Linked DNA regions of Homo sapiens: region 2 is linked to region 1. A link means that fine-mapping ties the variant in region 1 to the expression of a gene that starts in the linked region. Tissue or cell type: whole blood. Region 1 holds a variant in brackets; the other region holds the start of a gene. All regions are shown on one strand. Distances are from middle to middle.

Evidence for each region. PIP is the estimated chance that this variant, and not a neighbour inherited with it, causes the effect.
Region 2: it holds the start of THOP1, and the variant in region 1 is fine-mapped to the expression of THOP1 in whole blood (INTERVAL, PIP above 0.99).

The regions. Positions count from the first base shown.
Region 1 is chr19:2,757,253-2,765,352 of GRCh38, forward strand. SGTA (small glutamine rich tetratricopeptide repeat co-chaperone alpha) reads right to left here. Exons shown (of 12, transcript NM_003021.4): 5 at 7,934-8,033; 6 at 6,401-6,505; 7 at 5,254-5,392; 8 at 4,208-4,270; 9 at 2,005-2,042; 10 at 441-530; 11 at 85-205. The coding sequence ends at 91. Among named protein-coding and RNA genes, the nearest start is that of SLC39A3, 21 kb to the left of the region's middle. The variant G/A (reference allele first, on the strand shown) is at 3,347.
Region 2 is chr19:2,782,155-2,790,254 of GRCh38, forward strand. It overlaps THOP1 (thimet oligopeptidase 1), which reads left to right and starts at 3,349. Exons shown (of 13, transcript NM_003249.5): 1 at 3,349-3,524. The coding sequence starts at 3,509. It overlaps SGTA (small glutamine rich tetratricopeptide repeat co-chaperone alpha), which reads right to left and starts at 1,119. Exons shown (of 12, transcript NM_003021.4): 1 at 1,079-1,119. RefSeq lists silencers at 1,041-1,090, 3,036-3,145, 3,176-3,635 and enhancers at 1,481-1,550, 4,613-5,139, 5,140-5,666, 7,319-7,608.

The sequences.
Region 1 (8,100 bases):
TCCTGCTGGCTGCCCTCACTGCCAGGCACTCACGTGGTGTCACTCCTGCTGGCCACCCCCCAGCCCCCGGCCCCATGCACTCACGCAGCGTCACTCCTGCTGGTCGTCGTTGCTGGCGCTGGGCGTCCGACTCCGGATCTGGCTCCTGAGCTGCTCTATCAACTCTGGGTTCTGCTGCTGCATCTGCTGGGCAAACTGCTGGCCCCTGCGGGGAAGGGCACATGGGGCTCAGCCAGGGCCAGGAGGCTGCCTGCTGCCTCCGTCCATCCCCAGCTGACCCCTCGGGCCCTCCACCCCAAAGACAGGCCTGACCCCTCGCTGGAGGACGCTGGGCCCTTCGGAGCAGGGGACGCAGCACTTTCGCTCTCCTCCTTCCCTTCCGCCTGCGAGCCCTGCCCGCCGCCCACGTCCTCCGTCCTCTTGGAAGCAGTTCCACTCACGCCTGGATGAGGCTGGCCAGGTCGTTCTGCGAGGGGCTGGTGCCGGGAGTTCCCAAGGGGTTGTTGCCACCCGAAATCATGCCGGACATGCTGCAGGAGAGAGCGCGTGACTCGCAGCCGGGACAGCCTGACCGCCACCCCCACTGCAGGCCCTCGCAGTGGCCCGGGAGAGAATCCCTCTCAGCCCTTCACCTTCCCCTGCAGGAGAGGATTCTCTCTCACCACCTGGTGGGCCTCCAGGGCCCAAACCCACCCTGTGACTTTCACCTGCTTTCCCAGAACACCCCTCTTTCTTTGGCCTAAAGAGCGTAGTTCTCAGCCAGGGGGTGATCCTGCCCCCAGAGGACCCCTGCAATGGCAGCGGACATTTGCAACAGCCATGATTGGGTTACGCCAAGACAGGGGCAGGGGGTGCTCCTGGCATGGAGTGGATGGAGGCTAGAGACAGTGCTCAGCACCCTGCAGTGCCCAGGACGGCCCTGCTCCAGAAACTGGTCCAGCTCAAATGGCCACGGTGCTGTGGCTGGGAAACCATGCTTTAAGATTTGACCGTGGGCCAGCCGCGGTGGCTCACACCTGTCATCCCTGCACTTTGGGAGGCTGAGGCGGGTGGATCACCTGAGGTCAGGAGTTCAAGACCAGCCTGGCCAACATGGTGAAACCCCATCTCTACTAAAAATGCAAAAATCAGCCGGGCATGGTGGTGGATGCCTGTAATTCCAGCTACTTGGGAAGACCCACTTGATCCCGGGAGGCAGAGGTTGCAGTGAGCCAAGATTCTGCCACTGCACTCCAGCCTGGGTGACAGAGCAAGATTCTGTCTCAAAAAAAAAAAAAGGAGAAAGAAAAAAAGATTTCACCATGAAAACAGGTGAGCAGCTCCCCAGTGCGCACAGCGCTTACTGGGGAGTGACCCTATGAGCCAGCGAGTGCACTCAGAAGTTTATATCCAAGAGAAACGAAAACAGGATTCACACAGACGATTGCACACCCGTGCTCAAGCAGCACCGTTCACAACAGACAAAAGGTAGAAACAGCCCAAATGTCCATGGATAGATGTGTGGATCAGCACAGCGTGGTCCCTCCACACTGGAATATTACTCAGCCATGAAAAGGAGCGAGGCCCTGACCCAGGCCCCAGCACACATGCACCTTGAGGACGTCACGCTCAGTGAGAGACGCCAGACACCAAAGTTCACGCAGTGTGTGATCCCATTTCTACGAAATGTCCAGGACAGGCCCATCCACAGAGACAGGAAGGGGATGCGTGGTTGTCAGGGGATAGGAGAGGGGTTGGGGAGTGACAGCTGAGGGGGAAGGGGCTTCTTTCGGAGGTGATGAAGATGGGTTGGTGCTCAATGGTGGTGACAGTTGCATGACAGTGTGATGGTGGTGACAGTTGCATGACAGTGTGATAGTGGTGACAGTTGCATGACAGTGTGAAAGTCCTTAATGCCATTAAGTTGCACACTTTAAAGTGGTTAGTTTTATGTTAAGTGAATTTACCCACAATAAAAGGAAATTTAACCACAACAAGACCCGAAGAAACCCGGTTGTCACTTACAGCTGCTGAATCTGGGGATTGTTCATTAGGTTCGAAGCCTGAAGAACAGAACAAATTTGTCAGGAAGACAAAGCTCCCAGCGCATCATTCTCTTTCATCAGACACTTTCCATCTTAACCAGCCTTGGTTCTGGACTCCAGCACGCCAACCAACAGTAAGAGCCGGGCATTCGGTCTTTCATACCCTTTTCCCTACATTTTCGCCCCCCCACCCACGAGCTGTGACCTCCACATTGTGACTTAAATCCTGTTTTGGGTTCCTGCTTCAGGAGCGATCTCGCAGCGCCACAGCGCTCTCTCACTGGCTGCTGCGGTTTTGCTGTGTGGAGGCGTTTTGGTTCTTTATTTTAGCTGCTGTCTGCTTTAGCATATTTCATTTAGCATATTTGGTTCCAGTTTTGCTCTATCAATAAATAGCACTGTGGCTGGGCGCGGTGGTTCACGCCTGGAATCCCAGCACTTTAGGAGGCCGAGGCAGGCAGATCGCTTGAGGTCAGGAGTTCGAGACCAGCCTAACCAACATGGTGAAACCCCGTCTCTACTAAAAATATGAAATTAGCCAGGTGTGGTGGTGCATGCCTGTAGTCCCAGCTACTTGGGAAACTGAGGCACAAGAATCGCCTGAACCTGGGAGGGGGAGGTTGCAGTGAGCCGAGATCACACCGCTGCACTCCAGCCTGGGTGACAGAGTGAGACTCTGTCTCAAAAAAGAAGTAAAAATAAATAAATAAATAAATAGCACTATACTGGGCACTTTCTCATGTTAACTTTCCACTTGGGATTATTCCTTTGGACCTGTTGAAAGGAGGTGGCTCAGAGGTGTGGCAAACTCTCTGTGTAAAGGGCCAGTGTGTAAATACTCTCAGCCTTTTCAGACACGGGTGCCTGACGCAACTACTCAGCTCTGCCGCCGTATCATGAAAGCCACCAGTGACACTAGGTGTATGAATGGGCATGGCTGTGTGCCAATAAAACTTTATTGGTCAGGTGTAGTGGCTCACACCTGTAATCCCAGCACTTTGGGGGGCCGAGGCGGGTGGATCACAAGGTCAGGAGTTCGAGACCAGCCTGGCAAACATGGTGAAACCCCATTTCTATTAAAAAATACCAAAATTAGCCAGGCATGGTGGTGGGCACCTGTAATCCCAGCTACTCGGGAGGCTGACGCAGGAGAATCGCTTGAACCTGGGAGGCGGAGGTTGCAGTGAGCTGAGATCACACCACTGCACTCCAACCTGGGCGACAGAGCGAGACTCCATCTCAAAAAAAAAAAAAAAAAAAAAAACCAAAAAAAACTTTATTAACAAAACCCAGCGGCGGGCCTTATTCTGCCAACCCCAGAT[G/A]TCTGAAGGGAAAAGGCGTCTGTGACATGGCCAAGCTGAGAGGCCCCTTGAAAGACTGGGGCCCAGTCACCCTCCATCCCATGGTGAGGGAGAACATATTCCCCTGGCAGCTTGGCCAGCGGACGAGGGCTACAGTAAGAGGTGTGGCCTCTGCTGAATGGCACGACCCGGGCAGGGCTCCTGGCCCAGCTGGCTCATTTTTCTGACTGACAGTGAGACTGAGGGCTTTTCTCCCCGACAGCCTTAGGCGAGTCCCTGTACCCTGAGGCTGTGGGAGCCTGAAGAGTGGTCCCAGGGCACACAGACCTCCCAGGAAATGAACATGTGTGTGTGGGGGATGGCTCTCCGAGGATCCCAGTCAAGGAACTCCCTGCCAAAGGCCGTCCCTTTGGAAGCATGAGTGCCCGGGCATCGGGAGGTCCACCTGCGCCCGGCGCACCCGGCGCTCTGCTTCCCTTGCCTGAACCTTAGGAGGCAGACGCTGCTGTGTTGTGATCAGTGTCTCTGCACTGCGAGGAGGAGCCCACGCCAGGGTGGGGTGGGGGTGTGACCTCCCTGGGCTCAGCCAGGAGAGCCAGCTTTTGGTGCTCACTACTGATGGGTCTTGCTTGGGACATCAACATTGGGGACACTTTTGATTGTCGAAGCAGAGGGTGGGGGTGCTCCTGACATGGGGCGGGTGAGGCCAGGGGTGCTGCCAGCGCCCTGCGGTGCCCAGGACGACCCCACAGACAAGACCCATCTGGTTCCAGAAGCCAGCAGTGCCAAGGCAAGGAAGCCCTGGCCAGTAGCGGACACAGCAGATGCGGGCCTGGGGGGTGGCGCAGACACCATGGACAGGGAGGAGGGGCGGGCCGTTACCATGCTCATGAAGCCAGGGTTGTTCAGCAGGCCGGCGATGTCGAAGCTGCCCACGCCTCCCGTCTGAGGATGAGAACAGCCCTGGTTAGTGGGGCCTGGACCAGAGGCCACGGTGAATAACCCCCTGGAACTCAGAAACAACGGCCCCCCACGGGGCTCAGACATTCTATCAACCCTGCGGCCAGAGGGTGCTTTGAGGCAGGCAGCACGAAGCACATCGCAACCGCCCGGGGACGGCACAGTCTGTCATCCCGTGTTTATTCCCCGCACAGCGCGACCGCCCGGGGACGGCACAGTCTATCATCCCGTGTTTATTCCCCGCACAGCGCGACCGCCCGGGGACGGCACAGTCTATCATCCCGTGTTTATTCCCCGCACAGCGCGACCGCCCGGGGACGGCACAGTCTATCATCCCGTGTTTATTCCCCGTACAGCGCGACCGCCCGGGGACGGCACAGTCTATCATCCCGTGTTGATTTCCTGTATTCTGCCGCTTTGACACCTTGGGGCCTTGCTGGCCTGGCAGAGCCGCCCCCTCCTGGAGTAGCCAATTCCCAGAGAAAGCAAATGACTCACCCAGAAACGCACCTTTGAAATACAAACAAACTAACCCAGAACCCACACCCTCAGCACCTCCCCCATCACCCCAGGGCCACAGTCCACCTGCCCCACTCACCCCCAGGCCAGGGACCAGGCAACCAGGGGCAGCCCCCAGGCCTGGGTCTAATGAAATGGCTCCAACCAGCCAACCCGAAGCCTCCTCACCCGGCCTCGCCACAAAACCCACATCGAGGGTCCTTTCTGTGCCCCTCCCTCAGCCTCCGCGGGCAGCCCTGCGGCCGGCCTCCTGCTTCCAGGGGTCTGGGGGCATGAACCTTCTCACGACACTCACTTCCACGCCTGTGCATCTCACCACCAACTGAAACAAACCCCGGACCCTCACGACACCCAGGTTAAGCCTAGAGCCACTGGTGCGCCCGAGGACCTGTCCCCCACCCACACAGTCAGCTCGGCGTTCTGGAGCCACTCGCCCCCGCTGCACTCACGGGGCTGGGGGCCTCCCGCAGCTTCAGCTCCGCTATCTTGAGGTTGGACTTGTATGTCTCGTTGTCGGGGTCCAGCTCCAGAGCCTTCTTGTAGTAAGCCACGGCCTCCACGTGCTTGTTGAGGCTGGAGAGCGCCAGGCTGGAGGAGAGCACCGGGGATGGACTGTTCCCATCTGCCCAGCTCCAGGAGGCCCCGCCAAAGCCCTCGTCCCCGGCGGTCCTGGCAACCCCCAAACCACCTCGGATGGTGCCACCCCCTGCCCGCTGTCAGCTCAGTGGAGACAAACCTGGCTTTCGAGGGGCCCAGGGGCAGGACTGAGGGAGACAGACATGAGAACACCCCTGCCACACAAGAACTGGAGTCCCCATGGGGCCACACACAGGGCCTCAAAGCCCAGAGCGGGCTGAGAGGAGGGAGCGGGCCAGCTCAGGGTCACAGGAAATGCGTGGATGTTGTCTTGGCCCCGCTTCCCGGCACAGGGCACCAAGGACCCTCGGAACCTCTGAGCGACAGACATGTCTCCCGTCATCCACAAGCAGCCCCTGACCCCCACCTGAGTGAGTCTTCACTCGTGAGGTGACTCAGGGCCCCTACAGAGCCCAGGAGGAGGCGGGTCCTGGGGAGACTGGGCAGTTGAACAGGGCCCCTCCCCAGCCTCTGGGGAGACCCAATCCCACAAACTCTGAGCAAGGGCATTCAGAGAAGCAGGCGAATGCACGCTTATGCTGGGAGGGCGGCACCGGCTGCACGGGGCGCAGGCTCCTGCCCCGGGGACCCTCCTGGCCTCACTCTCGGACCTGTCCTGTGTCCTTCATCATAAACCAGGTGCTTCCCTGAGCTCTGTGAGCCGCCCCAGCAAACAATGGAGCCTGAGTAGGAGCCATGGGAACCCCAGGTGACAGCCAGTCAGGGAGAAGCAAGGGGCCCAGGGATCTCCGGGTGGCACCTGATGCGGGGCGTCTGTGGGGCTGAGCCTGTGACCTGTAGGGACTACGTTGGCTCCGAACAGCTAGTGTCAGAGTTGAACTGAACCGGGGTGGGAGAATTCGTTGTGGGTGGGAAAAAAGCCACACAAGAGAGGAAGCAGGAGCAGGAGAGGAGGGGTCCCGAGAGACTGGAAAGGCGCGGCCGTGGACAGGCACTCACCCCATCCTGCCGTAGGCCTTGCTGTAGGCCGGGTCAATGCAGATGGCCCGCTCACAGTCCTGCACCGCGCCTGCGTAGTTGCCGAGTTTGCTGTAGGCTGCGGCTCTGGGGAAGAAAAGGCAGGGCAGGTCCCTCACTGGCGGCTCTGAGCCCAGCGGGCAGCCCTTGAGGGGAGCCTGAGAGCTGCGTTCCTCTCCAACTTCCTGGAGGAACGGCCTCAGTTTTCCCCATCTGTAAAATGGGGCTGATGGGGAAAGCTGAGAGGTGTGGCCACTGAGATGCTCTTAGACAAATGTGGGCTCAAAGCACCAGCAGCCACTCAGGACTGCGACTCTGAATTTTATTTGCAAAAAATGTTCCGATCCATGGCTGTACAAGAGCAATGAGGGTAGGGAACTTATACCCAAGTTTCATTCACAAATTATTTACATATCAGTAAAAAAAGAACTCAGACCAATGTCAAAGCTCAAAGCTCTTGGCTTACAGCGTCTGAATCGTCTTCACCATTTTCGTGTTTAGTGTTTCTCTTTACAATTTTTTCAAAGTACAGAGAAGAGTGAGTGGAGACTAAACTACCCCATGACAGGCGGCCAGGAACCCTGCACTGCCTCTGCAACTGTCCTGTAAGCCTGAAGCAGATCCAAGACCACACATTCAAAAAACACAACCCTCCACATACTGGATTATTTTCTTGGCTTGACATCCACGTGGAATGCCATGATACCTGATTTTCTATGTATGTATTTATGTATTTATTATTTTTGAAACAGGGTTTTGCTCTGCTGCCCAGGCTGGAGTGCAGTGACACGATCTCAGCTCACTGCAACCTCTGCCTCCCGGGTTCAAGTGATTTTCCTGCCTCAGCCTCCCAGGTAGCTGGGACTACAGGCACCCACCACCACATCCAGCTAATTTTTGTGGTTTTTTTCGGGGTTTTTTTGAGACAGAGTCTCCCTGTCACCCAAGATGGAGGGCAGTGGCGCAATCTTGGCTCACTGCAACCTCTGCCTCCCAGGTTCAAACCATCCTCATACCTCAGCCTCTTGAGTAACTGGTGGTGCCCACCACTACACCCGGCTAATTTTGTATTTTTAGTAAAGACGGGGTTTCACCATGTTAGCCAGGCTGGTCTTGAACTCTCAACCTCAAGTGATCCCCCCCGCCTCAGCCTCCCAAAGTGCTGGAATTACAGACGTGAGCCACCGCGCCTGGCCCCCAGACTAATTTTTACATTTTCTGTAGAGACGGGGGTCTTGATATGTTGCCCAGGCTAGTCCCGAACTCCTAGCCTCAAGTGATCTTTCCCCCATGGCCTCCCAGAGTGCTGGGCGTGCTACCTGATTTTAAATCAGCATCGACTCTCCCCGACCCCGTTGCTGGTCACCTGATGCTCGCTCCTGGTCTGAGACCACCGGTGAATGGATCCCTCATCTACAGCGCAGAGGCCTCTCCCATCTCAGGTCCCTGCTAAGCATCCCGGAGGACGCCCCCGCACCCGGCCGCCCCTGCCCTGGGCAGGCCCTGAGCTGGTACCTGTTGCAGAAATAGACGGCGTTGGCTGGGTTGAGCTCGATGGCTTTTCCGTAGAAATGCACGGCAGCTTCAAAGTTTTCCACTTTCATCTGCTCGTTTCCTACAGGGAGAGAGGAAAACACCGGCCCGGTGTCCACACAGACCGGAGGGGGTGTCAGGGAGAGAGG
Region 2 (8,100 bases), 25 kb after region 1:
CTGGGTACTGCAGGGTGCCGAGCAGCAACCCTGGCCTCCACCAACTCCAAACCAGGGGGTCCCCCAAATCATGACAAGCACAAATGTCACCAAGAATCCCTGGGGCACAGAATTGTTCCTGGTTGAGAACCACTGGTCAAGGGAGGGAAAAGGCAGACAAAAGGAATAATCAGAGACAGAAACAAAAGAAAATGGGACAATCATTCAACCTCTGAAGGGCACACTACACTGCAATTTTCTGGCACCTAATAACAAAAACAGCTATTCTCAAGCCAGCTCTCTCTTATCAAGTTCCAGGCACCTGATCAAATAATTGAATGTGGGTTTATCCTCATAATGACCCTCCGAGGCATCTGCTTTTACAACTCGTTTGCGAAAGAAGGAACAGTTTGCTCAGAGAGGGAAGGCGACTCACCCAGGTTTACACAGCGGGTGGGAGGTGGTGGTGGACGGTCCTGAATCCCAGATTTCCCCCACCTCTAGCACGATATGCAGAAGAAGACTCTAAACATGATATAAGACGAACGCCTGCTAATTCTTTGGAGTTCTCAGATTCCGCTGGACCCTGCGGCTCTCCTTCTCCTAGGCAGGGACTTTTGAACAACGCCCGTTTTACAGAGGGGAAAACTGAGGCTCCGAGAAGCCAAGAGGCTGGGCAAGGTCACCCAGGTAGGGACTGGCGGCGCTGGAACCAGAGTTCCGACTTCAGTCCCCACAAACGGGGGTCCCTGAGTCACAGGGACGACGTTTCCAGGCGGTTAATAAGAGCGGAACGGCAGCGAACACCCAGCGAGCGCTCACTACATGCGGGGCGCCTTCCCCTCCCGCCGTCCTCGCCACCAGGCCGCGGACCAGCATTTCCAGGACCTGGGGCCTGGGGAAGGGAGATCAGGGCTCGAAGGGCCTGCCCGATGGCGCCCGGCCTCAGTTTCCCCTCCGCACCGCCTACTCACAGGACCCCGCGGGTCGCGGTGACCCTGGCCTCACGATCCCCAAACTCTTACGAGCTTTGGGGCCCCGTGGGCCCCGAGCCGCAGACCCCAGACCCACCAGGCTCAGCGCAGTGCCCCTCACTCACCTCTCAGGCGACCGATCCCCGACCCACCGACGGTTGCGCTTGCGCACCGCGGTGCCGCCCGGCCCCGGCCCCAGGGCGCGACGCCTGCGCAAAAGAAAGGCGCCCGGAGTTGCTTCCCTTCTGCACAGGCGCGTTAATGATGGAGGCGGGCGTGGAAGGAAGTGACGCAACGTAGAGGCGGGAACCAGCTGGTTGTTAGGGCAACTGACCTCTGCGACCTAATGGAGGCCGGAAATCGGGTCTGGTTTGCCCTCTAGAGCGGGAATGAAGCGGTGCACGGTGGAACAGTGGCTGACTCCAGCCGGTCGCCGAGCTGACCACGTGGTGCTGGGCCGGCCACGTGGTGCAGCCGCGTTTGGACACCTGGACTCCAGAGCGTCACAGCTGCGCAATGAATGGGAGTCAGTGTTACCCGCTTACTATCTTTGTTCATTTATTCACCCACCCATCTACTCACCCACAAATGCATTCTTTCATGCAGTGTGAGACGTTTGTGAGTATAGAGCCATTTGTAGACAGCAGGTGCCTAATATTCATTCAATATTTATTGCAAAGCAGCCATAAAAACCAGCAAAGTGTCTACTCTCATTATTTTGCATTGGGGTAGACGGACTATAAACTAATAAACTAGTACATAAATAGAGAAACAAATTTCACAGCAAACACTAAGAAAAAAAAAATGAAGGTAGTGTGATTGTCACTGGGAGCTAAGTCGCATGGGATGGGTAGGAAAGATCATCCTTTACATTTGGATTTCAAGGATAGGAAAGTCCAAACGGACCCCAGGCACAGGGAACAGCGAAAATGAACGCCGATGTAAAATTAATCTTGGTGTTGCTCAAGACATGTGATGAGACATTTCCAAGGACGACAGAAAACTGATCACCATCTAAGTTACAGTTGCCAGAAATGTTCTCCCAATTCATTTTCGTCCTACTCAAAATACATGCACGATTAATGGCGTGGATTATTTTAATTTCTTTTGCAGAAATAAAGGAGGTGAGGCCGGCCGTGGTGGCTCACGCCTGTAATCCCAGCACTTTGGGAGGCCAGGGGGCAGATCACTTGATGTCAGGAGTTCGAGACCAGCCTGGCCAACACGGTGAAACCCTGTATCTACTAAAAATGCAAAAATTAGCCGGGCGTGGTGCGGGCATTTGTAGTCCCAGCTACTCGGGACGCTGAGACAGGAGAATCGCTTGAACCCGAGAGGCAGAGGTTGCAGCGAGCCGAGATCGCGCCATTGCACTCCAGCCTGGGCGACTGAGCGAGACTCCCTCCAGCCCCTCCAAAGCAAAAGAAAACAAAACAAAAACAAAAAAAGGGAAGAAAGGAGGTCGGTTGTTTTGGTTTTTGCCAGTTTAATTGTAGTACATTGTTTTTTCTGGGTGCCCTAACAGTTCAAGACAGATGGTTCAAGATGTTTTTTGTTTTAACCCACAACACTGCATGTAGGTCAGGCTACTGCACTGTTCCACAACACCTGTTATTTGACATGAATCCGTTTACTTGCTTTTGTTTCTGACAAAAAAAAAAAAAAAAAAAAAAACTTGGCCCGGCGCGGTGGCTCACACCTGTAATCCCAGCACTTTGGGAGGCCGAGGCGGGCGGATCACGAGGTCAAGAGATCAAGACCATCCTGGCCAACATGGTGAAACCCCCTCTTTACTAAAAATACAAAAATTAGCCGGGGTGGGGGCTGGCGCCTGTAGTCCCAGCTCCTGGAAAGGCTGAGGCAGGAAAATTACTTGAACCAGGGAGGCGGAGGTTGCAGTGAGCCGAGATTGCTGCTACTGCACTCCAGCCTGGGCGACAGAGCGAGACTCCGTCTCAAAAACAACCAAAGCACCAAAACTTCTGGTTAATTTAATTGATTCGTCGGATTCAGATGCTGGAAAGTGGGCCTGGGATATACAGTAAGCGATCAATAATAACACTGGCCCAACACACAGCTATAAGAAGCGAGGCAAGTACACATTAACGCGGTAGCCTGAAGCCCAAGCGAAGTCTCAGCGCAATGAGCCGCGCAGAGGCTCAGAGGCGTCAGCGGCGTGCGCGGTTTCCAAGGAAACCGTCCGTCCTAGCCACCCCAGCGGCTCTGGAATGGTAGAGCAAGAGGCTCCGCCCACGCACCGCCGAGACCAATAACGGACCGGGAGGGTTACGGCGAGTGCGCAGAGGGCTCCAGCGCACTCCCGGCCCTCCTCCTTTAGCTGTGGGCGGGGCTCAGGGGCGCGTGCGTCCTGCCCTCCCTGTGCGCGCGCCGCCCCAGCATGCCCCGGGAGCGCGGGCGGCGGGCCCCTTGGTCCTCAGGCGGCCGTGGCGGCGGTGGCGGCGGTTGGGCCGAGGCAGGCGGCCTCAGTGGCCGAGGTGGCTGGACGCGTAGCAGGTGGAAGGAGGGAGGGAGCCGCAGGCGCAGACCCACCCGCCATGAAGCCCCCCGCAGGTACCGACTACCCCGCTCGCCGGACCCGGGCGTCCCCTGCACCCTCGCTCCTCCCGGGGTCGCGACTTGGGCCTAAGGCTGGAGCGAAGCGACCCCCGAGCCACCCTCGGCCGGGCTGGAGGGGCAGCGGGGGAGGTGGACGACCCTGCTCTCTCGTTTGCCGAATGAATGAACCAGCTTTTCCAGCGCTTCATTCATTCTGCAAAGTTGATGGCGCTTCCCTTCCGGATGGGTCGGGCCCCGTGGCGGACCCTGGGGAGGCCGTGATTTAACGACTCCAGTCCCGTTTTCCTGGAATTCTAGAGCCACAGACAGACATTCAAAAATTAAATAAGAGAGGATCGAAGATAGGGAGGGATCGGTGCTCTGGTGCAGATAAACACGAACGGGGCAGTCCCAGGGACACGTTTTTAGAGAGAGGGTGGTTCCTGGGGGGCTTTTCTGAAGAGGTGAGCGTCGACTTGCTTGATTGGGAGAAGCAAGTGTCCTGCCAAGACCGGGGAAGGAGGCGTCCCGGGAGGAGGGAACGTGTTTGGAGAGCAGAAAGTCAGTTTGGCTGGAACGTAACGAGGGGACCTTTTAATTTTGTTATTTATTTACTTTGTCTCCCAAGCGGGAGTGCAGTGGTGCGATCACGACTCCCTGCAGCCTCGAACTCTTGGACTCAGTCAATCCTCCCGCCTCAGCCACCTGAGTAACTGGGACTACAGGCCTGCACCACCACACTTGGCTAATTTTTTGTAGAAACGAGGTTTCGCCATGTTGCCCAGGCTGGTCTTGAAGTCCTGGGTTCAAGCAATCCACCTGCCTCGGCCTCCCAAAGTGCTGGGATTACAGACATGAGCCACTGTACCCAGCCAAGACCCTTTTAATTTAGAGGCAAAGGGGCGATGTGACCTGTGTACTGTTTATTTATTTATTTGTTGGTTTATTTTTTGAGACAGTCTGTGTCTCCCAGGCTGGGGTGTAGTGGTGCAATCTCTGCTCACACAGGCTCACCGCAACCTCCGCCTCCCGGGTTCAAGCTATGCTGCTTCAGCCTCCCAAGCAGCTGGGATTTCAGGCGCCCACCACCACACCTGGCTAATTTTTTTTTTTTTTTGGAGATAGAGTCTTGGTCCGTCACCCAGGCTGGAGTGCAGTGGCGCGATCTCGGCTCACTGCAAGCTCCGCCTCCCAGGTTCACGCCATTCTCCTGCCTCAGCCTCCTGAGTAGCTGGGACTACAGGCGCCTGCCACCACGCCCAGCTAATTTTTTTTGTATTTTTAGTAGAGACGGTGCTAGCCAGGATGATCTCCATCTCCTGACCTCGTGATCCACCCGCCTCGGCCTCCCAAAGTGCTGGGATTACAGGCGTGAGTCACCACGCCCGTCACACCTGGCTAATTTTTGTATTATTAGTAGAGATGGGGTTTCACCATCTTGGCCAGGGTGGTCTCGAACTTCTGACCTCAAGTGATCCGTCTGCTTCGACCTCCGAAAGTGCTGGGATTACAGGCATGAGCCACCGTGCCCGGCCTGGGTTTTAGAAGGTCACTCAGGTTGTTGAAGCAACTCCTTGCCTGATCCTTGGCTTTTCTCTTGCCCAGCCACACTCCCCCAGCTCTTTGTCCAGCCCATTGCGATGAGGGTGATAATTGTAATAATGATAGTCAGGGATATTCAGGCCTTGGGAAGGAAGGAATGTTGTCTGCCTTGTTTGCTACTGGATCCTTGGCACAATCAGTAAATATTTACAGGATGAACTGACGTCCACAAGTTTTTCAAATCCTAACTCCTGCAGGAGAATTTTCTGACAGTTCCAGTTCCCATCCATCTCCATCCTTTCTGAGCCCCTGAAGCTCTTCTTTACCCCACGGTTTAATGTAGATCCACAGTCCCTTTTTTGCAGTTCTAAAATCCTAAATACTCTGTAAACTGAAAGGTTTGCCTTAAGTTTACAGCAAAGTCATTTGGCCAGAAAATGACCTCAACTGACCGACTGAGAGCCTTTCTTTTTCCCACTTAGCGAATATCATTGATTCTCAGCTGGGGTGATTGTGCTACCTCTGGGGACACTGGACGGTGTCTGGGGACATTTGTGGTTGTCACAGTTGGGGGGCGCTCCTGGTATGGAATGGATGGAGGCCGGGGACGCTGCTCAGCACCCTGCAGTGCCCAGGACAGCTCCACCCCAGAAAACGATCCGGCCCCAATGGCCACAGTGCAGACAGAGAGACACCCTGGTGCGTATTCCTGCATCTCACTGCAGAAAGAGTAATTTGATTTCGGAGTGCTGCCTCAGCCTCCCTAGTGATTTGGAATACATGGCACTTGGACTCTATTAATACTGTTCTACAATGGGGGGAAATTCTGAATGTTAAAATGTCCCCGGCCCCAAGACTTTTTGGACAGGAGAGCATGGTCTGTAATAACAGCTACCTCTTGAAAACTTTCTGGTGGTATTCAGGATACAAGATGTTTTGCCTTCATACCTCACTGAATTCTTAGACAGTTCTTGTTCTCTGCACCCTGAATTGTTCCCGTTTTGCAGGTGGGAAGCCTGAGAGTTAATGTTTCTTGCCAGAATCCCAGAACTAGCAACTGGCAGAGGTGGGGTCCGCACCCAGGCCATCTGACTTCAGCTTCTGCGTTCTGAGCTAGCTTGTTGTGCCTGCCCCAGCCTTTGTAAAAATGCACATCTGATTGTTAGTGCCACTGTCCCATCCCCTTCCTGTCCCTTTCCAGGGCTCCACCTTGCACTCAGGATTGAAGTTCAAAGCCTTCATTGTCATCTACACCAGGAGTTGGCAAACTCCAGCCTGCCTATTTTTTTTGAGACGGAGTTTCACTCTTGTTGCCCAGGCTGGAGTGCAGTGCTACGATCTCAGCTCACTGCACCCTCCACCTCCCAGGTCCAAGCGGTTCTCCTGCCTCAGCCTCCTGAGCAGCTAGGATTACAGGTGCCTGCCACCACACCCAGCTAATTTTTGTATTTTTAGTAGAGACGGGGTTTCTCCATGCTGGCCACACTGGTCTTGAACTCCTAGCCTCAGGTGATCCACCCGCCTTGGCCTCCCAAAGTGTTGGGATTACAGGCACAAGCCACAGCATCCGGCCAAGATGGAGTCTTGCTTTGTCGCCTAGGCTAGAGTGCAGTGGTGCAATCTCAGTTCACTGCAACCTCTGGCTCCTGGGTTCAAGCGATTTTCCTGTCTCGGCCTCCAGAGTAGCTAGGATTACAAGCCCGCACCACCACACCTGGCTAATTTTTGTATTTTTAGTAGAGACGGGGTTTCACCATGTTGTCCAGGCTGGTCTCGAACTCCTGACCTCAAGTGATCCGCCTGCCTTGGCCTCCCAAAGTGCTGGGATTACAGGCGTGAGCCACCGTACCTGGCCAGGCCTGCCTATTTTTGTACACCCCTGGAACTGAAGATGATTTTTGGATGAGACAGAAACCATATGTGGCCCACAAAGCTGAAAATCCTTGGCCCTTTGCAGAACTGTTTGTTGGCCCCCTGGGTCCTCTGCAGAACTGTTTGCTGGTCCCCTGGGTCCTCTGCAGAACTGTTTGCTGGCCCCCTGGACCCTCTGCAGAACTGTTTGCTGGCCCCCTGGGCCCTGCACGGTTAGGTGTTTCCAGGTGGTTTTGCCACCTTCTCTGTGCCGAGCCGCACTGACTTCACATAGTCGCCCTTCCCGCAGCTGCTCTCGCTGCCAGGAGCCCCCGCCTGCCATTCTTGTTTTCAGGCTCCATTTACCCGTTTCTCAGAGAGGCCCTGGTGTGAGTGGCCGGGCCACATATGACTCGCCCGTAGCACCTGTGGGTCTGGCACGACCACACGCCAGGCTGACTTTCTTGTTGAGTTCATGAATGGAGGCCTGCTTGTTCCCCCCACTGGGTGTGGGGTGTGGAAGAAGCAGACAGAAGAAGGGACTCCTCCCGAAAACCCCCCGATACCTCACCTTTCCCCTCTGGCATGGCAGGAGTTGAGCAGTGCGTGGGTGGTCCTGGACTTCCCCTTTTGTGAACACCCAGGGGTTTGTACAGGCTGATCTGTGCATGGTGTCTCCACTCTAGGGCAGGGGGATTTTTTTTTTTTCTCTTTGAGATGGAGTCTCGTTCTGTCGCCCAGGCTGGAGTGCAGTGGCGCGATCTTGGCTCACTGCAACCTCCACCTCCCGGGTTCAAGCAATTCTCCTGCCTCAGCCTCCTGAGTAGCTGGGATTACAGGCATGCGTGCCACCACGCCCAGCTAATTTTTGTATTTTTGGTACAGATGGGGTTTCACCATATTGTTCAGGCTGGTCTCAAACTCCTGACCTCGTGATCTGCCTGTCTCGGCCTCCCAAAGTGCTGGGATTACAGGCGTGAGCCACCAAGCCTGGCCGGGCAGGGGGATTTTTAACAGCAGTATCATCTCTATTCCGGGCTGATCGTTCTCTGCTGGGGCCGTCCTGGTCACTGCAGGGTACTAAGCAGGATCCCTGGCCTCCACCCACTCCACGCCAGGAGCATCTGCAACCGCGACAGCCACATGTGTCCTAGATGTCACCCAGGGTTCCCTGGATGGGATTGATGGCAGAGTAGCC